Linked DNA regions of Homo sapiens. The protein of the gene in region 5 interacts with the protein of the main gene of each other region in a biochemical or structural test. Each region holds a gene or a part of one and is shown on either strand. Other genes may lie near its edges. The genes, in order: PRKCA, CFTR, KCNV1, PDGFRB, GRIP1, AKAP10 and TJP1.

What was found.
Region 1: the proteins of GRIP1 (region 5) and PRKCA interact in a test that uses a peptide from one of them, tested with the Homo sapiens proteins (one large-scale study listed by IntAct).
Region 2: the proteins of GRIP1 (region 5) and CFTR interact in a test that uses a peptide from one of them, tested with the Homo sapiens proteins (one large-scale study listed by IntAct).
Region 3: the proteins of GRIP1 (region 5) and KCNV1 interact in a test that uses a peptide from one of them, tested with the Homo sapiens proteins (one large-scale study listed by IntAct).
Region 4: the proteins of GRIP1 (region 5) and PDGFRB interact in a test that uses a peptide from one of them, tested with the Homo sapiens proteins (one large-scale study listed by IntAct).
Region 6: the proteins of GRIP1 (region 5) and AKAP10 interact in a test that uses a peptide from one of them, tested with the Homo sapiens proteins (one large-scale study listed by IntAct).
Region 7: the proteins of GRIP1 (region 5) and TJP1 interact in a test that uses a peptide from one of them, tested with the Homo sapiens proteins (one large-scale study listed by IntAct).

What each region holds. Positions count from the first base shown.
Region 1 is NC_000017.11:66,802,613-66,806,112, reverse strand, and holds part of PRKCA (protein kinase C alpha type), read right to left. Parts: intron 2,241-3,500; coding exon 2,076-2,240; 3' UTR 1-2,075. UniProt on the Homo sapiens protein: Calcium-activated, phospholipid- and diacylglycerol (DAG)-dependent serine/threonine-protein kinase that is involved in positive and negative regulation of cell proliferation, apoptosis, differentiation, migration and adhesion, tumorigenesis, cardiac hypertrophy, angiogenesis, platelet function and inflammation, by directly phosphorylating targets such as RAF1, BCL2, CSPG4, TNNT2/CTNT, or activating signaling cascade involving MAPK1/3 (ERK1/2) and RAP1GAP.
Region 2 is NC_000007.14:117,609,025-117,612,524, reverse strand, and holds part of CFTR (cystic fibrosis transmembrane conductance regulator), read right to left. Parts: intron 2,007-3,500; coding exon 1,856-2,006; intron 945-1,855; coding exon 717-944; intron 1-716. UniProt on the Homo sapiens protein: Epithelial ion channel that plays an important role in the regulation of epithelial ion and water transport and fluid homeostasis. Mediates the transport of chloride ions across the cell membrane.
Region 3 is NC_000008.11:109,972,972-109,977,033, forward strand, and holds the start of KCNV1 (potassium voltage-gated channel subfamily V member 1), read right to left. Parts: upstream 2,801-4,062; 5' UTR 2,648-2,800; intron 2,222-2,647; 5' UTR 1,418-2,221; coding exon 957-1,417; intron 1-956. UniProt on the Homo sapiens protein: Potassium channel subunit that does not form functional channels by itself. Modulates KCNB1 and KCNB2 channel activity by shifting the threshold for inactivation to more negative values and by slowing the rate of inactivation.
Region 4 is NC_000005.10:150,145,846-150,149,345, reverse strand, and holds part of PDGFRB (platelet-derived growth factor receptor beta isoform 1 precursor), read left to right. Parts: intron 1-3,500. UniProt on the Homo sapiens protein: Tyrosine-protein kinase that acts as a cell-surface receptor for homodimeric PDGFB and PDGFD and for heterodimers formed by PDGFA and PDGFB, and plays an essential role in the regulation of embryonic development, cell proliferation, survival, differentiation, chemotaxis and migration.
Region 5 is NC_000012.12:66,462,577-66,466,076, forward strand, and holds part of GRIP1 (glutamate receptor-interacting protein 1), read right to left. Parts: intron 2,847-3,500; coding exon 2,699-2,846; intron 518-2,698; coding exon 348-517; intron 1-347. UniProt on the Homo sapiens protein: May play a role as a localized scaffold for the assembly of a multiprotein signaling complex and as mediator of the trafficking of its binding partners at specific subcellular location in neurons.
Region 6 is NC_000017.11:19,967,829-19,971,328, forward strand, and holds part of AKAP10 (A-kinase anchor protein 10, mitochondrial isoform 1 precursor), read right to left. Parts: intron 634-3,500; coding exon 586-633; intron 1-585. UniProt on the Homo sapiens protein: Differentially targeted protein that binds to type I and II regulatory subunits of protein kinase A and anchors them to the mitochondria or the plasma membrane.
Region 7 is NC_000015.10:29,714,469-29,717,968, reverse strand, and holds part of TJP1 (tight junction protein 1), read left to right. Parts: intron 1-1,130; coding exon 1,131-1,358; intron 1,359-3,500. UniProt on the Homo sapiens protein: TJP1, TJP2, and TJP3 are closely related scaffolding proteins that link tight junction (TJ) transmembrane proteins such as claudins, junctional adhesion molecules, and occludin to the actin cytoskeleton.

The DNA.
Region 1 (3,500 bases), on a different chromosome or scaffold from region 5:
ACTCTGAGGACCTTGCATGGGGGTGTCTCACCAAAGCAGCGCGCTCCTCCCAAGACTGGAAAGGCCAATGCCACAATGGCTGGAAGAAAGTCCGCAGCCTCTGAAAAGCACGTGCTGGTGCCTGCAGGGCACGGCTGTGTTGGTCTCACGAAGTTTGTGCATGCTGGAGCAAACGACAGGTCGTTGCAGAGGCAGCAAGACAGCATGCTTCCTGCGTGTCCAGTACACACAGCAAGAGGGGAGTCTCCCCATCCCTCCCACCCCTGGAGTCAGCAACAGTCACAGGCTGAAGGGAAGAAGGAAACACACACACACGCACACACAAAGGTCAGCCCAGGTGCTGCGGCAATGCCACGTGTGTACCAACGTACTAGGCAGACTGGAATCAGACACTTCCTGTTGTCCCCAAGAGGAAGAGTGGCGGAGGAACCAGGACGAAAGGTGACATGAAGAAACTAAGAGGGAGTGTCAGCTCAAAAATAGTCCTCACCAATAAAAATTTGTTTGCAGGTAGAATCAAATACATATATATACACACACATATGTAGTAAGAGCCTAATCTATCACGTAAACTAGCCATTCATTTTTGAAATTTTATCTACATTTAAAAAGTAATCTATCTGATACAGTGCCCATGTGCAGGGAGGGAAAGCACAGAAGCAAGGGATTCAGCTAAAACTTAATTAGAAAAGAGGATTAGAAACAAGAACCTGCACAAATAGAGCACAATTGTGTCTTATAAAATTATTATAATACTCTCTTTATACTTGATACGATTATATCAATAATATAGATTCACTTGTTATTAAGGTTTATTATAAACATGCAAAATTCATTGCATGATGCATTTGCAAAACGTATTAAAATCCTTCTATTAACAAAACATCTTTGAGCTGTTAGGCATCCGGGTTTCCTGATTCTACAGCTCCAGGCCTGTCATTCAACGTGAACTAGAAATGGGAACCAAAACCATATTCTTTTTATCCCTAAGTGGACATCCAGGGCTAGAGAAGGGAGGAAAATCAATCGGTAGAGGCTGATGCTAGAGTCAGCACTTCCATTAAGTTACTGTACATCGTACTTTCATAAGCGACACTGCAGCCTATTAAATAAATAAGCACAAAAGGGGAGAGGGCGTACACTTCAGCTTCTTGAGAAGGATAACAAGGTAGGCAGCAAAATGTTGGTGTGTGTGGGGGTGGGTGTTGGTGAACAACACTGGTGAGTAGTGGCATGATTACTGATGGCACCCTGGATGGAAAAATAATCTCCCAGAGATTAAAATGAACATATGTACACACTGGCTTATCCTTGATCTGAAATGATTTCACACGCTTGTTCAGCAACGTCCTTAGACGATTTGGCCTCTTACAAAGAATGAAAAGTATCAAGACAGTTATCAACCAAGGAGGGTACCAGATGACAGATTCACCCAACACTCATCTGAGGTTTTTTTGTTTAAACTGGTAACTGCTGGACCATGGTTGGGTTAGGATTTGTCAATGTTTGGGAACAGTGATTAGGTTTATCCCGGCCTTTCAGATTCTAGGGGCTGTTTCCATGGAGGCAGAGAATGGACGCAGTCGGTATTTTGAGGCCTCCCCCACCCCCAATCCCTCCCTGCTCACTCTCTTGGCTTCCTGTTCTTGGATTCCAAAGACGTCTTGGGTGGAGATGTTTCCTGGGACAGGCTCACTTTAACATCTCTGGTTGGGGGATTCCAATGCTGAAAAATCCACAGATGGAGGGTATGGAAAGTATATCAAATTGTACCCAAAATGGGGCAACAGTCTGCTTGCTTTCTAGGAAGGGTTAACCTAGAGCCAGACGTAACTTCTACAGAATTAAACTGGACACTGAGCATGACGTACCATCTTCCACTAAGATAATGTTCTTGGTTGTAAGAGAGAGACCCTGAACAGTTGATCACATTTGGACTAATAACCCTACAATTTTCAGGCCTCCATATGGAATCAGACACAAGGCCGTGGCCTTAAAATTTTAGGGTTAAGGATTCACTTCCCACTGCGGGGAGGGCTGGGGGCTGGGGAGGTGTTTGTTCTCGCTGGTGAGTTTCATACTGCACTCTGTAAGATGGGGTGCACAAACTGGGGGTTGACATACGAGAACCCTTCAAAATCAGACTGGTCTATGTTAGCAATAACCAGCTGATCAGGTGGTGTTAAGACGGGCTGTCCTCGTGTGAAGAACTTGTCAAAGTTCTCTGCTCCTTTGCCACACTGTGGAGAAAAGACAAAAAGAAGGAAAGGTCAGTCAACATGACAATGCGGGAGCAGCTCTCCGAGGGCCCTCTCTGGGGAGGGGCACGGCCCTGGGGAACTCCGGGCTGGTTAGGAGGAGGAATCTCGGAGGACTTGCAGGCCTATTGGATTGAAAAGCCAGGCACAGCAGACAACAACGAGTTACCCAACTGTAAACCCTGAAACACCCCGAACAGAAGCCCTGGGTGGGAATTGCACGGCTGGCAATGAGGCAGCAACAAGGGGACAGCCCCTGTCCCCTCACGTCCACCTCACCGAGCAAGCGGAGCTGAGAGCACGGAAGCCACGCACGCAGGGCCGTCAGTCACAGCTCCGTGTTGAAAGGCCAGGATGTCGGCTGGGGCTGCAGGCAGTTACCCCTGGACCAAGCGACGGGGTGAGTTACTGCCCCACATCTGTTTTTTTGCCGCAATATTTGTAGTGAAGTAAAAACTGTGTTATCCTTGCCTTCCTACTGGGCTGCTCCAGCAACCCCAGCCCCTAAATTAAGCTTCAAGCGATATGAGGTAGGTGTGGCGGCAAGGCTGGGAGATTTGCACCTGGCCCAGCTAGGATTTAGCACACCTAGACAGAGCTGGCCAGCGGGCAGGCTGGGTGACTGACTGGAGCTTATTTGCAGGGTGGTCTCAGGCTGGAGGATGTTTGCATGGCGCCCTGGGGAGGCAGGGAGAGGCCTGCTGTCTCGGCTGTTCCTCTCCTCCAGGGTCCACTCCAGGCAGAACTGTTGCACTGGGGTCGCTGAGACACACAGCCGCTTAGGCAGCACGGCTTGGTAGCCTGACCCCAAAAGTGGGGAAGGAGTGTTCTCTTCACCTTGTCAGCCACCCACAAGGGTAGTGGCGTGTTGAAGTCCCCGGGAGCCCAGGGTGACTCTGAAGCAGGAAGAGCTGGGAGTTTCACTAAGGATCCTAAGAATGATTTTCAAGATGCTGCCAATTACTGCCCTTGGACCTGCTGCTAGCACCACAGGGCCAATATGAATTAACTCTGAGCTAGCACACATTTCAAACTAACCAGGCATCCTTGGGTCTCTAACAGAGAATAGCTCTGGATTAACTGTGAAGTGGGGTCCACCAAGTTTGCTCATCTGTAACACTGGGAGAACAATCACACCTCCTGCCCAAGGCTGTCAGGAAGGTGAAATGTATGGGGTTTTGCACAGAACCCAGCCGAGGCGAGAGGCCAGCACGTGCTGCTAGTGTTTTTATAAGGCAGTTG
Region 2 (3,500 bases), on a different chromosome or scaffold from region 5:
AAATTAGAGAAACAAATTTACCTACATAGATTTTTATTTTACTTATTATGAAATACTTTGTTTTTCACTAAAGATCCTAAAATCAATCCAGAACATTTGTATTTGAAAAACATGGCACTTTCTTTTCTTCTTTTTCTTTTGAAAAATGTGACACTGTCTTTCTTTTCTGTGACAGTTTTTCTTTGTGTAAAACTCACAATTAGATAACAAATTTTATCTAGTAGAGATTTAAAAAAAACAAAACTTACCGACAAGAGGAACTCTGTGTGTGTGTGTGTGTGTGTGTGTGTAAATGCGGATGTTTCATTTCCCCTCTTTAGGAATCTATTAATTTTGAAGCTAGGACCCTTCACCAATATGAGTATGAAGAGGTGACATATTTCCCCTTCAATCACAGAATTGCTATCTGACAATCTGTGTGCATCGGTTTTTAAAACTGTGAAAACAGGGATAATACTATATATATATATGTATATATATATATATATATATATATATATACATATATATATATATATCCGATTTCAAGGAAATTATTTGTTTAACAATAAAACAATGGAAATTCAAAGAAATCACTTGTTCAATAATAAACCAACAAATTTGTTAATTACTAAACTCTAAAGATATCAAAAATTGATAACCTATAGAATGCAGCATTTTATTCATTGAAAATTTTTTACTTAAATGCTTAGCTAAAGTTAATGAGTTCATAGTACCTGTTGTTAAAATGGAAATGAAGGTAACAGCAATGAAGAAGATGACAAAAATCATTTCTATTCTCATTTGGAACCAGCGCAGTGTTGACAGGTACAAGAACCAGTTGGCAGTATGTAAATTCAGAGCTTTGTGGAACAGAGTTTCAAAGTAAGGCTGCCGTCCGAAGGCACGAAGTGTCCATAGTCCTTTTAAGCTTGTAACAAGATGAGTGAAAATTGGACTCCTGCCTGTGAAATATTTCCATAGAAAACATTGCAAATAACATAAACACAAAATGTAATTTCATAATATCTTGTACCTGAAAAAGACTAAATTAGAATAATCATATCACAAATGTCATTGGTTAAAAAGCTTTTTTTCACACTGGTGCCATTCTTTGAATAGATATGATTTGTTATTTTATTAATGAGTTACCCTCTTTTTTTACTTGGCTACCAGAGATGGGAACTTAAAAAATTACCACCAATATTTATTCCTCTTTCTTGGCTACCACTGGGAGTTTTCTGGCTAATTCTAAATTAATTCTTACTAAAAAAATTTTCTTTTAAGACAATTTTTTCAAGTATCTAAATTAAGGAAGTTTATGTGACTTGATTTAGCTAATAATCTACAAAGCAGAAATATACTGAAAAAGTATTGCCTGAAAATGCACCCACACTAAGGCTGTCACTGCAAAATGTGATTCCCTAACAGCTCAAGTAGAGTTTGGGGGCACACGAAATGGCAGCTCCAACACATGAAGAAAGGGTGTCTGAAGACAACAAGCCAAAGGGACAAATTTGGTCAAGTATCATTTGGGAACCCAGAGAAACCTTTAGTAATAGCAGCACTATCCTTGTTTAATTTGACTGATATAAGTTTATTATAAATGAATGTCCTGTACACCAACTGTGGTAAGATTCTATATACCTATTTTAAAACCAAAATGAAGTCACATGGTCATTAATTAAGAAAAAAAATCCATGTGTACTTTGTAATATAGTTTCCTTTTATATACACATGCATGTAGAAAAAAATTATTGTTATATGATGTAAAAGTTTAAAAGCAGAATTTTTTTTAAGTAGATTAACAATAAAGAATCTCAAATAGCTCTTATAGCTTTTTTACAAGATGAGTATCGCACATTCACTGTCATACCTTCAGATTCCAGTTGTTTGAGTTGCTGTGAGGTTTGGAGGAAATATGCTCTCAACATAATAAAAGCCACTATCACTGGCACTGTTGCAACAAAGATGTAGGGTTGTAAAACTGCGACAACTGCTATAGCTCCAATCACAATTAATAACAACTGTAAGATCAAAGAAAACATGTTGGTGAGTAAACATTTTCACATTGCAAAGTGGACAAAGTGTGTCAGTGATTTATTTCTTTTTTTTTTTTTGCATACTTTAAACACCTCAAACTTTTTTTTATTTTTTTTATTATACTTTAAGTTTTAGGGTACATGTGCACATTGTGCAGGTTAGTTACATATGTATACATGTGCCATGCTGGTGCACTGCACCCACTAACTCGTCATCTAGCATTAGGTATATCTCCCAGTGCTATCCCTCCCCCCTCCCCCCACCCCACAACAGTCCCCAGAGTGTGATATTCCCCTTCCTGTGTCCATGTGATCTCATTGTTCAATTCCCACCTATGAGTGAGAATATGCGGTGTTTGGTTTTTTGTTCTTGCGATAGTTTACTGAGAATGATGTTTTCCAATTTCATCCATGTCCCTACAAAGGACATGAACTCATCATTTTTTATGGCTGCATAGTGTTCCATGGTGTATATGTGCCACATTTTCTTAATCCAGTCTATCATTGTTGGACTAAATACTCTCCCCATTCTATTCCTAGTCAGAAAGTAGCCATTTGCAAGTACATTTTTCATAGGCTCTATGAAAATTTTAAAAATTGTTTAGGTCACTGATAACATTTTTGAAGTTTGAAAACATGGTGTTCTTTGATCTTTGGATATTTTCATTTCCCAGACACTTTAAAGTATTGCATGATAAATACATTTTAAGTGAATATTAATTTAAAATAAACTATTTTTAAATAATTTTAGTATGAAGGTGAATCTTAGGATTTATTTTGGTTAGACAGTTTTTGAAAGCTGGGCATTCGTCTTGGAGTCTTTTGATTCAGAAAGTTCTGCTTGAAATACAAGCTTGTCATTTAGGCAAGCTATCTAACCTTTCGGAGCATATTTTCTCATGCTTAACATTGAAATAAATCATACTTAATAAATTTCTATATTTCTACATTACACCAAATACATACATTTTTAAAAGGTACAAAGTCCGCTAACATGTACTTCACAATAATCCATTTGAATAAAGTATAAAGTAACTGTCTGCAGAAAGGATTAAAAAAAACCACTTTATAATATCCATATGCTGTTCAGTGAGCCAGTTCTCTACCCGTTACCATAAGTGACACATGTATTTTCAACTGATATAACTTTAGAACTGAAAGGGACCATTATCAGGTTTATATTCCCCATTCTACAAGTGACAAATCTGAGACCCTTCAAGATAAGTGTCTGCTCAAGGTAAAATAGTGGGAATCTGTAGAAAATAACCAAGATTTTCAATTTTCACTATACAGTGCTCCAATCCGGAAAGCAAATTTGTCAGAACATTGTCAAAGTTAGAAAATAGAATGAAGATTACATGAGGTATCAAAATACTCAAACTCAAAGAAGCAAAGAACAGAACCATGGGTAACAGGACAGGGGAGAGAGGGAAATGGGGAGATACTAATCAACAGGTATAAAATTTCAGTAGTGCAAAA
Region 3 (4,062 bases), on a different chromosome or scaffold from region 5:
ATTTTTCCTTTTTTTTTTTTTTTTGAGACGGAGTCTTGCTCTGTCGCCCAGGCTGGAGTGCAGCGGAGTGATCTCGGCTTACTGTAGCCTCCGCTTCCCAGGTTCAAGCGATTCTTCTGCCCCAGCCTCCTGAGTAGCTGGGATTACAGGTACGCACCACCAGCACCCCCGGGTAATTTTTGTATTTTTAGTAGAGACAGGGTTTCACCATGTTGTCCAGGGGGGGTCTCGAACTCTTGGCCTCAAGTGATCCACCCGCCTCGGCCTCCCAAAGTGCTGGGATTACAGGCGTGAGCCACCACGACCGGCCTGGATTATAATTTTTAAAATGACACTTTCTTAGTAGAAGTGTATACATAGTAAAGCTACTTTGGATTAATACATTTTATTACCCATTTTCTGGTAAGAACAGATGTTTGGCAGGTGGAACTTTTTTGTGTGTGTGTAAAGGAAATGTATTCATGAAGAAATGGTAGTAATAGCAAGGTAACCTCAGAGTTCCACAATCATTCAATCAAGGGACCAACCTTTTATCTTCTATATTTAAAACAATTCTCCATTCAAGTTTTTCAAAGTCAGTGTTCTAGGTTTGATAAATGATAATGCTGCGTGCCAAATCTTTTATCCCTATGCATGCATTTTTGGAGCATGGCGTTTCTGATTCATTTATTCAGTCACCAAATATTTATTGTGGGCCTGAAGTCCCTTGCCTTATACGTTAAATTAGCATACTCAAAAAAGGGAACAAAGAGATTCAAAAAGTTCTATTCAAAAGTTGGCGTTGATGCTTTCCAGTCCCCCACCCCCACCCCACCTGTCAGCCCAGAAGTGGCCACACCTTATTGCTAGGCCTGGCTCCAGCGAAGCTTGTGTAAAGCCTCAAATCTACCTGTGCCTTCCTCTCTTTCTCTGCCGCGCCCGCCTCCCCGCCCAGCCGCCGCGTGCCTCCGGGGTACCTGTCCCTGCAGCAGGAATCGATGCTGAGCTCATCGATGCCCCAGTACTGGATCTCCTGCAGGAAGGAGAGCGCGCACAGCTGCTCCATGACATGCAGGCGGCCGGTGCGGTAGTAGTGCAGGACATATCGGAACGCCTGCGAGCTGCGGTCGAAGAAGTACTCGTTGTCCACGGGGTTGGCATCGTCGCAAAGCTCCAGAGGGCTGGGCACGGCGGCCAGGGCCCCGGGGCGGCGGTAGGAAGCCACCACCACGGCCAGCTTGCCAAGGCGCGTGTGCGGGAAGCAGGACAGCGCCTGCTGCGAGAGCACGAAGCGGCTGCCGCCCACGTTGACCGTGAAGCAGTCCCCGAGCGCCAAGGGCTCCCCTTCACCCTCGCTGCAGAAGACACTAGAGTCCAGGGAGGTCAGGGAGCCGCTGTCCAGCGGCGAGTCCAGCAGCGCTCTGCCGCTGGAAGGCATCTCTAACCCAGTCGCCGCGGCCTGAGGGCGCCACAAAGTTGGGGACACGCCGGAAGCTTTGGTCCCGCGAGGGCGGTGGCACGGCCCCTGGTGGCGGCCGGGATTCCCCGGGCTCCCGAAGGGGTTACCTCTCCTTGGCGCACCCTCTCCACCCGCTGTGCGCCTTCCTCCTCCTGCCGCTAGGGAGCCGGGAGTGCGCGGAAGCAGCGCACAAGTGGCAGAAAGAGGAGACAGGGAGCAGAGGAAGGGTCGCGCTAAGAGAGAGGATCAGGTGAGGTCCAAGCCCGACACAGTCCCTGTGCACACTGCCGGTCGCCCTGGCCCTTCCCAAACGTTGTCACCCCGCCTCCCAACTTCGCAATTGCGATTCCCAGCCCAGGAGGTGTACAGATTGAATGACTCGCTACTTGGTGGGTGGAGGGGTTGGGGAAGGGAGGAAGGAGGGAGATGTGGGGCGGAGGAGGAGGAAGAGGAGAGAAGATGACTCTTAGCTGAACGCAAGCAAGCAAGCAAGCAAGGGGGATGGCGAGACTCACTCCTGCCCGCAGGAGACCAAAACAAAAAGTTCAGAAAGCAAAGGAAGTGGTAACCGGGTCCCTTCCAACTTGAGAATTTATATTCCTCCCTTTTCTTTTACTGCTGCTTCATAGGCCTCCCCCGGGGTGTTCGCTGGGGGTGTGAGCAGGTGGGGGAGGGTTCTCTGGGTGAGGGGGCCGCACCATTTTCTCCCAATTCACTCTCATTCTAGTCTGATGATCACTGACGCTCCATTTTCTTCCGCCGTCTCCCTTAGGTTCTGACCTCCTGGTTGAGAAACAAGAATAATTAATGATGACTTTTTATTGAAGACCCAGTGGGTCACTAAGAACTAGGAGTGTCACTGTCAGCTCCCACCCTGTCGAGGGTCCACCTCGTGTTGAGGCACTTTTTTGAGGCACCCTTCCTTTTAACCATTTCTGTCCCTACAAGTTTCCCGGAGAGCAGGTGTTCTGAGCACAGCGGAGCTCTCATTTTAGAAGGAAAGGCAAAAAGACAAGGAATAGAACAAGCGTGGGCTGGGGCAGGAATTTAAATAGTAACGACGGCCTCCCTCGGTAAAGGGAGAAGCCGAGGCCAGCGCCCAGGTGAGACTAGAAGTGTACCCACGGGGCCCCTGGAAGCTGCGCTCCAGCCAACCTGTTGGACTCGGGGTGAGGAGGTGGGGGTGGGAGGGAAGAGCAAGTGACTCACCTGCAGCTCCCGGCACATCTGGTCTGCGCACAACCGGCGCCGCAGGTAACGTACTCTTCTTTTGATCCTCTTAGTCTACACGTGAGGTCTGACTCGACCGGTCCAGGAGGGAAACTGTGTTCCAGCTGAGCTCTACCCAGCGCCTGCTGCCTTGCCTTGCCCCGCCTCCACCTCCCTCCGGGCTCCTGGCCCCTGCGCTTACGCTAAGCGTGTCCGCCCCGCCCGCTCTAGCTCTGAGAGCCACTCGCCCAGTGCTTCCAGCACCAGCAGAGGGGAGTGGCAGGATCTAAGGGAGGGAGGTGAGACGGCGGGGGTGGAGGCGGGGGGTAGTGAGGTGCCCGGTGACACTCAATATTACATTCATCCTGAATACACTTGCAGAATTACTGCATTTGATTCCCGTTTCCCCGGATCTGTGCTTTTGTAAATGCTCCAGAGCAAAATTTCCAACTGGATCAGTGTGCTAAACTTGAGGTTAGGGCAGTTATATTAACTGCTTCATTTGGCATGGTTCAAGGTTTTCACATTTTCAGCAGGCATCTCAGAATCATGCATTTTTCAAGTCTTTGCCAGAGAGAGTGAACCACACTCATCTTCGTTGTTTTCTAGTATGTATATATAGAATACATATTGGAAAGCATATATTATGGATACACTTACATATATAAGTATATATTAGAAAGCATACACACACACACGTATTAGGTAGTATATATAAAGACATAAGCAGGCAGCCTGATGTAGTAGAATAAGCTTTTTCATAGATTGGACAGAAACGTGACTGTTTAGTTCTAGCTTTGCCAACTGGCTGTGGGACGTCTAGCTATCATTTACTTTGAGGGTCTCAGTGCCTTCCTCAGTGAAATTTCAAGCTTTAATGAAAACACCCAACATTTAATGGGTGCTTACTTTATGCCAGGAAATTTGTAGGCTCTTTATTCATGCAGTACCTTATTTAATCATAATGACAACACTATGAGGTAGCATATATCCATTTTACAGAAAGGAAAAGTGAGGCACAGGGAAATTAAGTGATTTGCAAAGGGCCACACAGTTCAAATCAAACCCAGGACTACATGTCAGAGGCTGCCTTCATAAACAAAATTCTAGAAACATTATTTTTTGTTGATAAATCAGTGTGATTGTTTTTATTTTCTTTGTTTACAAGTTTCTAATGAAGGACAGGAGTTTAATGAGGTATTTTCATCACTCTTTCAACAAAAGTTTACTGAGCATTCACTATATACTGGCACTATTCAAGGTACTTGCGATGTATCAATGAAGAATAGACAAGATCTCTGTTGTTGTGGAGCTTATAGTAATCCTCTGAGAATAAATGGGGGACTTCAATAAACTTTTTTAAACTATAATATTTATAAGCATGGTTCTTTTGACAGCCATCCATTTGGTTAACT
Region 4 (3,500 bases), on a different chromosome or scaffold from region 5:
AAGAGCCCTGCATTTCCATTTTGTGCTTGCCCCACAAATTATGTAGCTTGTCCTGCCAGGGAGTTCAGGCTGAGTTTGGGACGGCTTCATCCCCAACACTGGCCTTGCAGCCTCCACTGTCCCCATCCTAATCCACAGCCTCCCACTAAATGCCAGCCTGCTGGTGTCATCCTCCTGCATGGAGGCCCCCTCCCCACAGTGCCTGGAGTTACAGCATTGCCCTGCCAAGCCAGCAGCTACTACCCGCCATCACTATCAACACCTTGAAAAGTTGGTGGTCCAGAGAAAATCCTCACACAGCACCGCAGACCTTTCCTGAAGTCTCCCTGCCTCCTTCCCTGGCCTCCTGCTGCCTCCTTCCCAGGCCATCACCTACCTGTTTGCTGAAGAGCCCCAGTTTCTAGCCCAACAGATCTCTCCCTGCCATTTCTCCCAGATGCCTTTCATCTCTCACAGAGCCCTGGCCATACCTTTCCCTGGCATCATCTGCCAAAAAACTCAAGAAACCCTGGAGGCCTAGCTCAAGGCCACCTCCCTCAGGAAGCCATACCCGCTCTCCCCACTGGAGTAATCATATACTGTTGTTAGTCACCATTTACTGGGCACCTATGATGTGCCAAGTGCTGTGCGTCATCATCTCTGGCCCTCCCAGAAATGGAAAAGGAGGTCTCCCATGCCATTTCCCAGGAAATTGGGACTCAGATAAGTTAAACTCAGAGAACTGGGGCTTGGACCCAGGAATAAGTGGCTTCCAGCTGGAACCACTGCTCCCAGCCTGGCGGGGCTCCCATCCCTGCCCTGGATGGCATCAGGCGCAGCCTGTTGGCTTCAGAGTGCCATATGTCTGTTCTGCCCTCACCAGCTCATCTCCATCACCTCCCTGGAAGGAAAGAGTCACCATTGCCTATCCATGCCAGTTCCCTAGCCTAGTGAATCCTGTGTTATTAGGAGGCAGCCGAGGGCCCAGGACTGAAGAGCTGACCCTACAGAGCCATTTAATCTCTCATATCGTGTAAGCGTTTACTGAGCACCTACTGTAGGCCTAATTCCATATTAGGAAGTTGAAGAGAGTCCAGATCGTTGTTAGGTAGGTATCCTGATTTGTGGGAAGTCATATTAAAGGACTAAGACAAAAGTTCAGGAAAGAAGTAATTGACAGACAGTGGTGATTAGATGGGTCTGGCCTTAGGTTGGCCACCGAATCGCCGAGTGTGCTAGGATGAGACACTCCTCACTGAGCCTCAGGACACTGAAAAGGGCTGTTGCTACTGATTGTACCAATAATCAGCAGCTACCTCTTCCTGAGGAGCGTCTTTTGGGAGAGGCCTTCTTGCACCGTCTCATTTATCACATGCATCACTTTGCTGAGAAGCCTAGTCCCGTGGAGTCTTGGCTGTGCGCGCAAGGCCGAGTGAGTGAGTGACTTCTTCTCCCTTGAGTGAATGAATAATAATAATGTGGCCACCAACTTTGCAGAGGGCTGTGTGCCAGGCCCTATTCTAAGCATTTTGCTTGTGTTAACTCCTTCAATAGCCCTGACAACCCAGTGATGAGCCCCAATCTACAGATGAGAAAACTGAGGCACAGAGGGGTGGTTAAGTGAATGACCGAAGACAGGGGTGGGAGGACAGATGCTGAGACAGTGAGAGGGTCAGTGAAACATGGGGGTTCTCTGCCCTCCTGCTCTGCCGCCCAGGAGGGCTCTGAGGGGAATCTCAATGTTTGGTAATTGGCACTGATAAGTGAAGGGTTTACTCATTAGCTAGCTACCCCTCCCCTATTTGCAGGCCCTGGGCCTGTGGGGGAAGGCTGTGTGCTGGTGGGTCAGTGTGAATGGCCCAAGGCCTGCCTGTCCCCTGCCCACTTGGCTCTGAGAACCCATTCTATTTGCGGCCCCCACCCCAGCCCATGGCTGCTCCGGGCTGGCAGCAGCCCGGGGAACAGAAGGTTTGCTTGTCTGCGCCTGCCGCACCCCCCTCCTCAGTCTCAGCCTGGGACCCCTCTCAGGGGCTCCTTTGGCTGCCAAGGGCCTGGCACTCCCTGTTGCCATGGCACCGGCCGGAGATGAGGCTCTGGGGGGTGGGGATGGGGAGGGCAGCAGCAGGATGGTGGAGGCCTGGAACTCTGCAGCTACAGAGGCCCTGGCCCTCTGCAAACAGTGGAAGGGGGTGCTGGGGCCCCCACAGGGGCAGGCCTGGACCCTGTGCACAGCAGGCCTGTGGCAGAGCCGGCCACACACCTGGGCTGATTGCCTGGATGCTGTATCCCGCAGGAGCACTGCCCCTGCCAGACCCTGGCTTTCCTAAGCAAAAACTCTCTCCTCAGCCTTGTGTGCTCACCCTCAGCCTCTGCAGCGAAATTGTGGAGTTCTATCCCTAGTCCTGGGTTCTATCCCTAGCTCGACTTTAAAATTATTGGTGACCCGGGGCAGGCCTCCCGCATACACTGCCCCTCAGTCAGAGCAGAGGCGGGACCCAGATCCCTGAGGATCTTCTCATCCCTGAGATCCTGGATTCCGTATGGACGCCATTAGAGGGAGAACGTTTCTCTGTGGACAGATGGACAGAACTGTTTCTGGTCAGGAGACAGACAGTCTGGCATGACGGGCAAGAATTCAGGTTTTGGCAGTTGTGGTGATGCGCACCTGTAGTCCCAGCTACTCAGGAGGCTGAGGCGGGAGGATCACTTGAGCCCAGGAGTTTGAGGCTATAGTGAGCTGTGAGCTATGATCATGCCACCACACCACTGTACTCCAGCGTGGGCAACAGAGCGAGACCCTGTCTCTAAAAAAAAGAAAGAATATAGGCTTTGGAGTCAGGCCGGCCTGAGTTTGCATTCCCGTTCCTTTGCATCTTACTTATTGTGTGACCTTGGGAAAGTTACCAAAAGTCTCTGAGACTCATCATTCTCCTCTGTAAAATGGGAATAATGAGTGTACCCCCCTCACAGGGTGGTCGTGAGGATGAAACAAAATCTCCAGATCATCTCATTTAGCAGAGTGCCTGGCTCTAAATTAGTAGGGACTTTTGTTTGTTTCCAGATTGGGGGGGATCAGAACAATAACTAGAAAGATGTCCTGTATTTGGGGAGAGGGTGGTTGGTGGATAGAAGCAAGACCAATAAGCAGAGAATACAGTGAGATAAACTGTACTCAGTGTAATTAACAATTCTCAATAGTCTGCCCTCTGAAGATTCTAAGCTGGCTAAGAATGAAATGGGCCACAGGTGAGGTGGTGAGAGCCCTGTCATGGGAGGTGTGCAATTGCAGAGAAGGTGGGGGAGATGTGAATAGAGGGAATGTACTAAGACTGTAGGGCTCTGTGAAAAATGGAGTGACTGTTTCCCACTCAAACTGTCAGCTTCAGCTTTACCCAGCTCAAAAGACAGCGTGAAAGAGTGAAAGGAGAAGTTGGGACAAAGAAGGCGAAAAGATAAGGCTGACGACTTTATTTTTTAATTTATTTTTTTGAGACGGAGTTTCACTCTTGTTGCCCAGGCTG
Region 5 (3,500 bases):
ACATAACCTTGTTTTGAAAAGAAATGATGAGTCTGACCAACATGGTGAAACCCTGTCTCTATTAAAAATACAAAAATTAGCTGGGCATGGTGGCGGTCACCTGTAATCCCAGCTACTCGGGAGGCTGAGGTAGGAGAATGGCTTGAACCCAGGAGGCAGAGGTTGGAGTCAACCGAGATCATGCTACTGCATTCCAGTCTGGGGGACAGAGTGAGACTCCATCTCAAAAAAAAAAAAAAAAAAAAAAGGCAGAATGAGACCCAGTGTCTTTCTGCTGTCTAACTCTGCTAGAGGGAGCAACACTGTGAGGGCCAGAGAAAGAGCTTGATCCAGGTGGACCATCTCACCATGGTCGGGCCCCTTTAGGGCCAGCCGGGTCTGATGATGGGGAAGGATCTCAAGCTTGACCTGGTCAGTGGTGTTGGCCAGGAACTGGGTTGCTTCTGCAAGTGTACAGTACTCCATGCTGGTTCCATCGATGGAGAGGATGTGATCTCCCACATGCAATGCGCCACATCTACGGAAAGGAGAAATACTCGGTAAGAGGCAGTGCCTTCCTCTTTGGAATCTGACTTTCATGTCCTTCATAGTTAAAATTTCACAGTTTTTCATTTACTTAAAATAAAAGAAAAGAAAAGTTTGAGTGTTATAGGAAACACCATCTGCCAAATTTTAAGTACCTTGAATATGAACAAGGAAGTAAAACCTTGTGGAAAATAGAGAAAAATTCAACGAAATGTTTTCTCTTGTCTTTCTTTAAAAAAAAAATCTTATTTTGGAGTGCTTGTGTGGAAAGTTGAGGGAAAGCGAGCAAGAGGAAAGGGAAAAACAGGAAAATGTTTCCCCTGGACTTTTGTCTGTGTTTTTTTGTTCTAGGCTTTTCTATCTATAAACATGAGTGGGTAAATCTTCAGAATCTCAAACATGACTCTCAGAATTGGAATAGGGTCTATTTTATGTGTAAAGAAGAATAACTTGGGGAGATTTCAGTAATACTTCCTTGGAATCCTCACACAAACTCCAAGATCACCAGTTCTTTATTATTATGTTATTCTGGAGTTGAACATGTATTAGTATAAAAGCTCTTGATAATGGTAGAAATTATGCAGGAGTCAAGTGAGTAATAAAACCAGGCCTGCATGGTGAGTCAAGGGGAAAGATGGGGGCAGGGAAGGGGCTAGCTGCTACATCTTGCTGAACTCAAGAGCTGGCTACTGGATGAGTTAAGAAAAGCTAGCGCAGTCGTCAGCATCCCCACATACCAGTCAAGTGAACAGCTCCTTAAACTGGTTACCCCCTGTGGAATGGGAAAAAACAGAGGGAGAAAATTAAAGCATCCTGTGCCATTGAACTGCACAACACCCCTGGATCAATGGCTGTCACTGATAAGGACTGAATGTTGGGTAAGACCACAATGGAGATGTAGACTGACCACTACGGGGGGTTGCTGCAGTTCACTGCACCATGGCTGGAGGTGGAAAGGCAGGTTGAGGGGCACGTGGAGAAGAGGGCTGGAAACATACAGGGGAGACTGGTCATTCAGGTGCAGTATATCTATAAATTCCCAGTGTGAATAGTCTACGTCTCAAGACAAAAGCATTTCAAGTCATATCTTCCAACTAAAAACATAATTCCACATTTTTTGCACTTGGAGTGCTTTAGCTATGGGAGATGAGGTTTTTCTTACCAGGAGCTGTAAAATAATTAATTAGATGGAAAGGTAGTCTTTTTTTATCTTCCCCTTTTACCTTACGAGTATAAAATATTAATTAGAAACATGAAATTTCATTTTTATTGTGGCATTGAAGCGAATGATGTTTTAAGACACCCTCGAAGGTTGTAAAATCCTAAGATTAACATGCTATGAGAGTATAGGACTTTTTAAAAGTATTGTAAAAAATATTTTAAAAAGTATTGTTTTATTTATTTAAGAAACAAAGAAATCAGATTTTATGGTAGCAGGATTTAATTGTCAACAATTCAGGAAAACCCATCACTGCTCTGCATGGGGTTTAAGAAAGATCTACTCAGCTACCCTACATTAAGAACAGGCTAGTGCCCTAGGACACAGTAAGAAAACTTGCTTAGTTGCTTGATTTTTTTTTCTATTGCTAAAGGCCACACCAAACATCTGGATGACGTGAAGTGACATCATGGGGTGGCTGACACATAGGTGAATTTTTAAGCCCTGTAACAGTAACTTGCTTCTGTGTGTGAAACCTGTATAAACTGGCAAGAGAACTGTGTGTGTGTGTGTGTGTATGTGTATATGCATGTGTATATGTGTATTACAAGTGTGTGTACATATGTATGTATATATATTTAAAATTGCACACATGCAATTTTGTAAAGGGGCACTTTCTTTCTTTCTTTCTTTCTTTTTTTTTTTTTGAGATGGAGTTTCACTCTTGTTGCCCAGGCTGGAGTGCAATGGTTCAGCTCACTGCAACCTCTGCCTCGCGAGTTTAAGTGATTCTCATGCCTCAGCCTCCCGAGTAGCTGGGATTACAGGCACCTGCCACCATGACTGGCTAATTTCTTGTATTTTTAGTAGAGATGGGGTTTCACCATGTTGGCCAAGCTGGTCTCGAACTCCTGACCTCAGGTGATTCACCCGCCTCGGCCTCCCAAAGTGTTGGGATTACAGGCGTGAGCCACTGCGCCTGGCGGAAAAGTAGGCACTTTCTACAATACTTACCTGTCTGCAATACTTGCAGATTTGATTTTGTCTATGACAATGACTTGTTTGTTACAGCACATCGAGGTAGTTAGGGCAACCCCAAGGCTGGCACCAGGAGTTTTGGCAACTTCGACTAGTAGTGGCCCGGATGCTGTTGCCACAGAGTCTGTCAAAGAACAAATTTTAGAAAACAAAACAAATAAAACAAATAAGCAAAGAGACAAAAGAAAGAGATGAAGAATATTCAGTTTGGTGTTAGCCTGTTAATTTTATCACTGAAACTTAGATTTCCCTCCATATAATATCCCCACAGCCAATAATAAATTCATAGGGCACCTCTTAACACACCTGTTCCATTCAGCTTGTATTGTGTTAATGTATGTGTAATGTTCATCTCTTCAATGAGATTTTAAGCTTCATGTCACTTGGGATAATATCTTATGTATCTTTATCCCCTCCACAGTGCTTGGCACAATGCCGAGCATATACTAGGTCTCTCAGTAAAGGTTTTTTAAATTAATTACTTAATTCAATAAATATCTTAGCACCTACCAGGAATAAATAGACGGATGGATGAATGAATGGATGAAAGGATGGATATAAAAAAGAAAGGAAGGAAAGAAGAAAGAAAGGAAGGGAGGAAGGGAGGAAGAAAGAAAAGAAGGATGGATGGGTGGATAAATAAAAGAATGACAAGAGGGATGGGAGGATGAATGGATGGGTAGATAGATAATCAGAAGAATGGATGGATGGATGATGTCTCTAGCCAAGTAGTAGGAATGTTACACTAAGTTGAATTTGTAAAGCTTAACTTCATATA
Region 6 (3,500 bases), on a different chromosome or scaffold from region 5:
GCCGAGATGGCACCACTGCACTCCAGCCTGGGGATAAGAGCAAGACTCCATCTCAAAAAAATAAAATTAAGGTAAAAAAAGCCTACTTACGGCCGGGTGCGGTGGCTCACGCTTGTAATCCCAGCACTTTGGGAGGCCGAGGCGGGCGGATCACAAGGTCAGGAGATCGAGACCATACTGGCTAACATGGTGAAACTCTGTCTCTACTAAAAAATACAAAAAATTAGCCAGGCGTGGCGCCGTGCACCTGTAGTCCCAGCTGCTGGGGAGGCTGAGGCAGGAGAATGGTGTGAACCCGGGAGACAGAGCTTGCAGTGAGCCAAGATCGCGCCACTGCACTCCAGCCTGGGTAACAGAGCAAGACTCCGTCTCCAAAAAAAAAAAAAAAAAAAAAGCCTACTTATTATATGCTAGATGTTAAAGCATTATACAGGTTAAAGAGGGAAATAAATCAAAATCATAAGTAATTATAAAATAAGGCAGAAATGATTAATGCCAAAAGAGAGAGTATAACAGGATTAAAGAACTCACAAATGCAAAGCACATCACTTTTTAATGCAGTGGACTGCCAAGGGCAGAACTTACCTTTAATGGACTTCACATCTGAGGTCTTCTCTTGTTCTTTGCCTTTCACTAGAACATAAAAAGATAATTATGACCAACTTTTGCAGTCAGAGATCCATTCTATAACACTGTAAAAATTAGACCAGCTTTATTCTAAGATGAGTATTCAAAGTTCTAGAACAATGGACAGCCTTGGAGGAGGGCACAGGAGGGTAGTTGTCAGCAAAGGCTTCTCTAAGGAAGTGACCTTGGAACAGCATCCAGTCAAAAGAGTTGAACCTGCTTATGGAGAGACAATGTAGTCACAACATCTGGGGTCAAATTCTGGCTCTACCACTTATAAGCCATGTGATCTTGGACAAGTTACTTACTTCTCTGGGTCTTAATTTTCTTGATTTATAAAATTAGGTCAATAATAAAAACTACCTTAGAGGATTATTGATGAAAAAAAATATATACCTGTAAGGGGCTTAGAAGAGTAACTAGCACAGTAAATTGAGGACAAATGCTAACCAATATTATTACCATGTGTCATCCATAGTACTAGCTACTAGAAGCATAGTGAAGAAAGGTCTTTGGTTGTGTATCATATCTTATTACTTATTCCTCCCATAGCATCAAGTGAAAACATCCTAAGCCTCTAACACTCAGAGTATAATAATTTGTCTGGGCCAGGCACGGTGGCTCACGCCTGTAATTCCAGCACTTTGGGATGCCAAGGCGGGTGGATCACCTGAGGTCAGTAGCTCAAGACCAGCCTGGCCAACATGGTGAAACCCCATCTCTACTAAAAATACAAAACAATGAGCTGGGTGTGGTGGCGGACACCTGTAAGCCCAGCTACTTGGGAGGCTGAGGCAGAGAATTGCTTGAACCCAGGAGGCGGAGGTTGCAGTGAGCCGAGATCGCGACACTGTACTCCAGCCTGGGAGACAAAGAGAGACTCCGTCTAAAAAAATAAAAGATAAAGAATAATTTGTCTGTAAAATAATCATATAATTGCTTCCTTACTACATAAAACAGTAAAAATTCTGCTGTAGATAAGCTAATATGACATCCAAGATAGGAAGGTGCCCAGCAGCTTAAGCCAAGTGTGAATTCTATCACAGGATCTGACATAAGACTATTTTTAACCCTCTTTTCTTGTTTTTTTTTTTCAACATTAAAAAATCTTACCAGGAAAAGGTTATCAAAATAAGAAATGCCAAAACGTGCCCATCTCTGTATTTGTGCTCTTAAACATTGAAAGGTGAAAGGCTAGTAGCAGGAAATAACTCGCCCTCAGAGTATCTGGATGAAGTCAATACATCAACTGTTGAGTGCTTGGTATGTGCCAGACATGCTCCCAGCTCAGAAAAGGCAATGATTTTGCCTTCAAAAAGTCTACATTCAAGTGTGTGGAGACTAACATGAAAAAAATAAATAAGATCGTTGCAGGTACTGATCACTGCTGTCAGGAAGACGACATTTAAAAATGTTGTAGGGTCACTGGTGTTTGCAGCCCTCTCAGCAGCATCTGCCCATGGACTACATCACTCACTTTAAACATTAACTTGTCTTGGCTTCCTTGACTCCTCTCTTCTGCATATACATCTGTATTTCCTGGCTGATCCTACCCATTCTTAAGGCTTACAATACCATAGATACGCTGTTACTCCTAAATTTATATCTCCATCCTAAATCTTTTATCTCAAATTCATATAGCTAACCACCTACCTGCCATCTTCCATAATTCCACTTGTCTAAAAGGGAACATGTCATCTTCTCCCAAACCTGTTCCTACCTCAGTCTTCATCTTCCCTCATGAATGACACTGTCATCCACCCACTACTCAGACCAAAATTCCGGAAGTCATCCTTAACATGGTCTGTTTATTACCTTCCACATACAAACTATGACCAACTGATTCTACTGCCAAAACAAACCACCACGGTTCCACTTTTACCACCTAAAAACATTCTCCTACTATCAATCAGATCTCCTATGTTATACTTCTAACATATACACAACTCAACAATCAAATATCAGCATTTTGCTTTATTTCCTTCTGTCCCCCTAAGTATTATACATAGACTTTAGAGTTCCTATGAATCACCACCTGACCCTTCCTTTCCCAGATATAAATACTTACTAAATTAGATATTTCCTGGCCAAGCGCAGTGGCTCACACCTGTAATCCCAGGACTTTGGGAGGCCAAGGCGGGTGGCTCACTTAAGGTCAGGAGTTCGAGACCAGCCTTGCCAACATGGTGAAACCCTGTCTCTACTGAAAACACAAGAATTAGCAGGGTGTGGTGGCGGGTACCTGTAGTCCCAGCTACTTAGAAGGCTGAGGCAGAAGAATCGCTTGAACCCGGGAGGCCGAGATTGCGGTGAGCTGAGATTACACCACTGTACCCCAGCCTGGGTGACAGAGCAAGACTCTGTCTTAAAAAAAAAAAAATAAATAAATAAATAAAGACATTTTCCTTCCATGTACGTTTTTTGACTATGACCACATACAAATACTTTTTATTTTTATTTTTTTGAGACACGGTCTTGCTTTGTTGTCCAGGCTAGAGTGCAGTGGCCTGATAACACTCGAACTCCTGGGCTCAAGTGATCCTCTCATGCCACCATACCTAATTATCCTTTCTGTTGTTGAGATGGGGTCTTGCTATCTCGCCCAGGCTAGTCTTGTACACCTGGGCTCAAGTGATCCTCCTGCCTCAGCCTCCCAAAGTGCTGGGATTACAGGTGTGAGCCACCACACCCAGCCAAACGTGTATATATATACATGTATGTGTATTTTTTTTAATGGCATTATTCTGCACATCTTTAAAAATCACGCAAATGGCTGAGCACGGTGGCTCACGCCTGTAATCCTAGCACTTTGGGAGGCCAAGTTGGGTGGAACACTTGAGGTCAGGAGTTCAAGACCAGCCTGGCCAACATGG
Region 7 (3,500 bases), on a different chromosome or scaffold from region 5:
TCTTAGTCAATAAGAAAACCTTTTACTGTGTTAGTAGAGGAGAGGTGTGAATAGGAGGAGTTTGTCCTTAAATAAAAACTATCAGCTCTCCTAAACAGTGATTCTAGGGGGAAAAAAAGTAGAACTTTATTTCTGACAAATCTGACAAATCTTTATACCTTTAGCAGACTTTCGGAAAGATATTCTCCAAGCAGATGATTAAATAAACATTTTTAAGCTCTGACATTTGTATTATGTTTTTTAGTTTTAAAAGTGCTTTTCGACATGTGAACTCTTAGTTTCCAGTGGTGAGGAAACAGACTCAGATTGGTTAAGATAACTAAATCATTTAGTGAGCATGCATAAGGTGCTTGCCCTTGTGCTAAGCACATCAGCATAATGAGGTGACACTGTTGTTGTTCTGCATTGTAGAGAGAGACACTGAGGCTGAGAGGGGCAAGTAGCTTACAAGACTTAGAGCTGGAAGAGAAACCTGGCCTGCTGCTCCTCAGCCTGAGCTTTTTCCCATGGCCTCATTGCACTGCCAATAAGTGACAGATTAGATTTGAATACAGCTCTTCTGATTTTGTTTTTTGACTGAATATATGTTTGCACTTAGGATAAAGAAGAGAACTGTCTAATATGAATTTACTTAATGACTTGCTTTCTTCCTCATCTGCTTTGTATGCCTTCTAGAACTTTAGACCATATAGAGTTATTTGTTCATATGAGAATCATTGAGATCCTGGACTGAGTTCTTAAAAATCCCTTTGAAAGTTCTTAAAGTCTATCATTTACTGTTCTTGACCTTGGTATATGTACTTCTCAAGATGTTCACTGTCTCGGTTACATTGCCCTTTGTCTTTCTGATTAACTACTTCTAACCTGCTGTTCCCTAATCATGTAATCGTTTAGCTTATTATATTGTGTTAAAGGACTCATGAGCCAGAAGGGGGCTGCCTTTTGAGTATACTCTGTGAGGACATGGGATTTGAAATATCCATTTTAACTGTTGGGACTGCTCAGATCCTCAGTAATCACAGCAGTTAGTAATTATTGACCTTTTAGTCAAGATAAGACTTACATATTCTACTTCCTTCATAACATTAATATTTAAAAAGGTGTTCCGTTTGTCATTCATTATCTGTTAGGATCCCAGAACCTCAAAAACCTCAACTGAAGCCACCTGAAGATATTGTTCGGTCCAATCATTATGACCCTGAAGAAGATGAAGAATATTATCGAAAACAGCTGTCATACTTTGACCGAAGAAGTTTTGAGAATAAGCCTCCTGCACACATTGCCGCCAGCCATCTCTCCGAGCCTGCAAAGCCAGCGCATTCTCAGAATCAATCAAATTTTTCTAGTTATTCTTCAAAGTAAGCTATTTCACCTGGCTTTTAAAAATAGGATGCAGCATATTAATCCCGTGCAGTTCAATATATTTTGAAGAAAAATAATTTAAGTGTAATATATGATTTCTGTAGGCTCTAGTGGTTCAGCATTGTACATACTTTTTAGTTCTGGGATGTGTGTTTTGTTTTTAAAGTCTGCTATTAGATGTACATAGTTTTTGCATTCACAAAGATGCTAACATCACAGGGTTTTGACGGAAGACAGTGTCAACCACAAGGACCCTCATCGATAGGTAATCATCAGTCTTCACTTCTGTACACACACCTAATGATGTCATGCTGGTTCTTTTTCTTTTCTGTTTTTATTTTTTAAATATAAATACAGATGTGAGGAGGATCCTGTTTGAGGGAAATACTGAAGAGGTTTTTTGTTTTTTGTTTTTGTAAGATTTCTGATCCAGTTTTACAGGTGAGGGAAAATGACAGGGCAGAGCTGGGACTGAACCCCAAGTTTCTTGACTCCCAGTCATCTTTTCCCTGTGCTTGCTGCTCCCCTCCGTTTACTCATCCCTGGGTTTCGTGTTGGTTTGTTCTCCTTTCTTGTGCCTGCGTGGGTTTGTGTCTCCTACTGGTTCTGTGTCTCTGGTTGAACCCTGACTGATAAGAGAATTTGGTACTGATAGTTGTGTCTAAGCCCACACGGGCACACAGGTAGATTCATACCTCAATAGAACAAAACCCACAAGAACAAAAACAGATGTGGATTTGTCAAAAGAAATTCATTTACACAGTTACAGGGGCTGGCTAAGCAAGTCCTATTTCAGAGGGCAGTTGGTCAGGAAGGGAAGATTTTGAGCTACTGGGGAGTGTGAGATCAGGGAAGGCCTAAATTCTCATTCAGAGGGCTCTGCTGATTAGGCCAGGCCCTCCCAAGACCATCTCCCCTCAACTGACTTGGGGACATTACACCTGAAAAATCCCTTCATGGCAGTACCTAGCCAGATTGACATATTAGAATTCATCACACATAGTATTGTGTCTATATTAAAAGCACCTAGATTTTTCCTTACTTAGTTGCGTGGGCTTGGGATTATCTTGGGAAATGACCTATTTGTCATTTACTATTGAGTGTAAATTGTTTTAGAACATACTTTAAAACCACTAACATTAAAACCTAATTTTAATTACCACTGCTTTTTTCTAAGACATCCTTTGTAGTGAAGACTTTTTTCACTGTCCTATATTTAAGGCTTTATGTTTACAGAAGAAAGCAGTTTATGAGAATCCAAATGCAAACTGAGAGTGCTGCAGTGGGGGTTGTATTAAATGCAAAACGTGTCTTGTACTAGTGTTGTGAACCACCCCTTAGCACAACACTAGAAAGGGGTTGTGGCATCTAGATGGTGTCTGGACTGAAGTGAGCTAGCACAATATAAACCCACACAGGTGCACAGCTGGGTTCATACCTCAACAGAACAAAACCCACAAGAACAAAAACAGATGTGGATTTGTCATTAGGAATTCATTTACATTTACAGTGTTACAGGAATTCATTTACACAGTTATCACAGTAACATCTAAATGGTGACTAGCCTAAAGTGAGCTAGGCACTGAGCCATAGGAGCTCACCTTTGGTAAGGCAGAAGGGTGTACCCTTTAGTTATTATTTTTACTAAACACCGTTAAACACATTCATTCCTGTCAGAAGAAGGCTCAGGTGTTTAGTTTAAAGATATCTCTTATTTATCGTTTTACATATTTGGTAAATAGAATACAACCTTAAAAAGATTATATGGCCAGGCGCAGTGGCTCGTGCCTGTAATCCCAGCACTTTGGGAGACCAAGGCAGGCTGATCATGAGGTCAGGAGATCGAGACCATCCTGGCTAACACGATGAAACCCCATCTCTACTAAAAATACAAAAAAATCAGCGGGGCGTGGTGGCGGGCTCCTATAGTCCCAGCTACTCGGGAGACTGAGGCAGGAGAATGGCGTGAACCCGGGAGACAGAGCTTGCAGTGAGCCGAGATCGTGCCACTGGACTCCAGCTTGGGCAACAGAGTGAGACTCTGTCTCAAAAAAAAAAAAAAAAAAAAAGGCTGGGCGCAGTGGCTCACGCCTGTACTCCCAGCACTTTGGGAGGCCGAGGTGGGTGGATCATGAGGT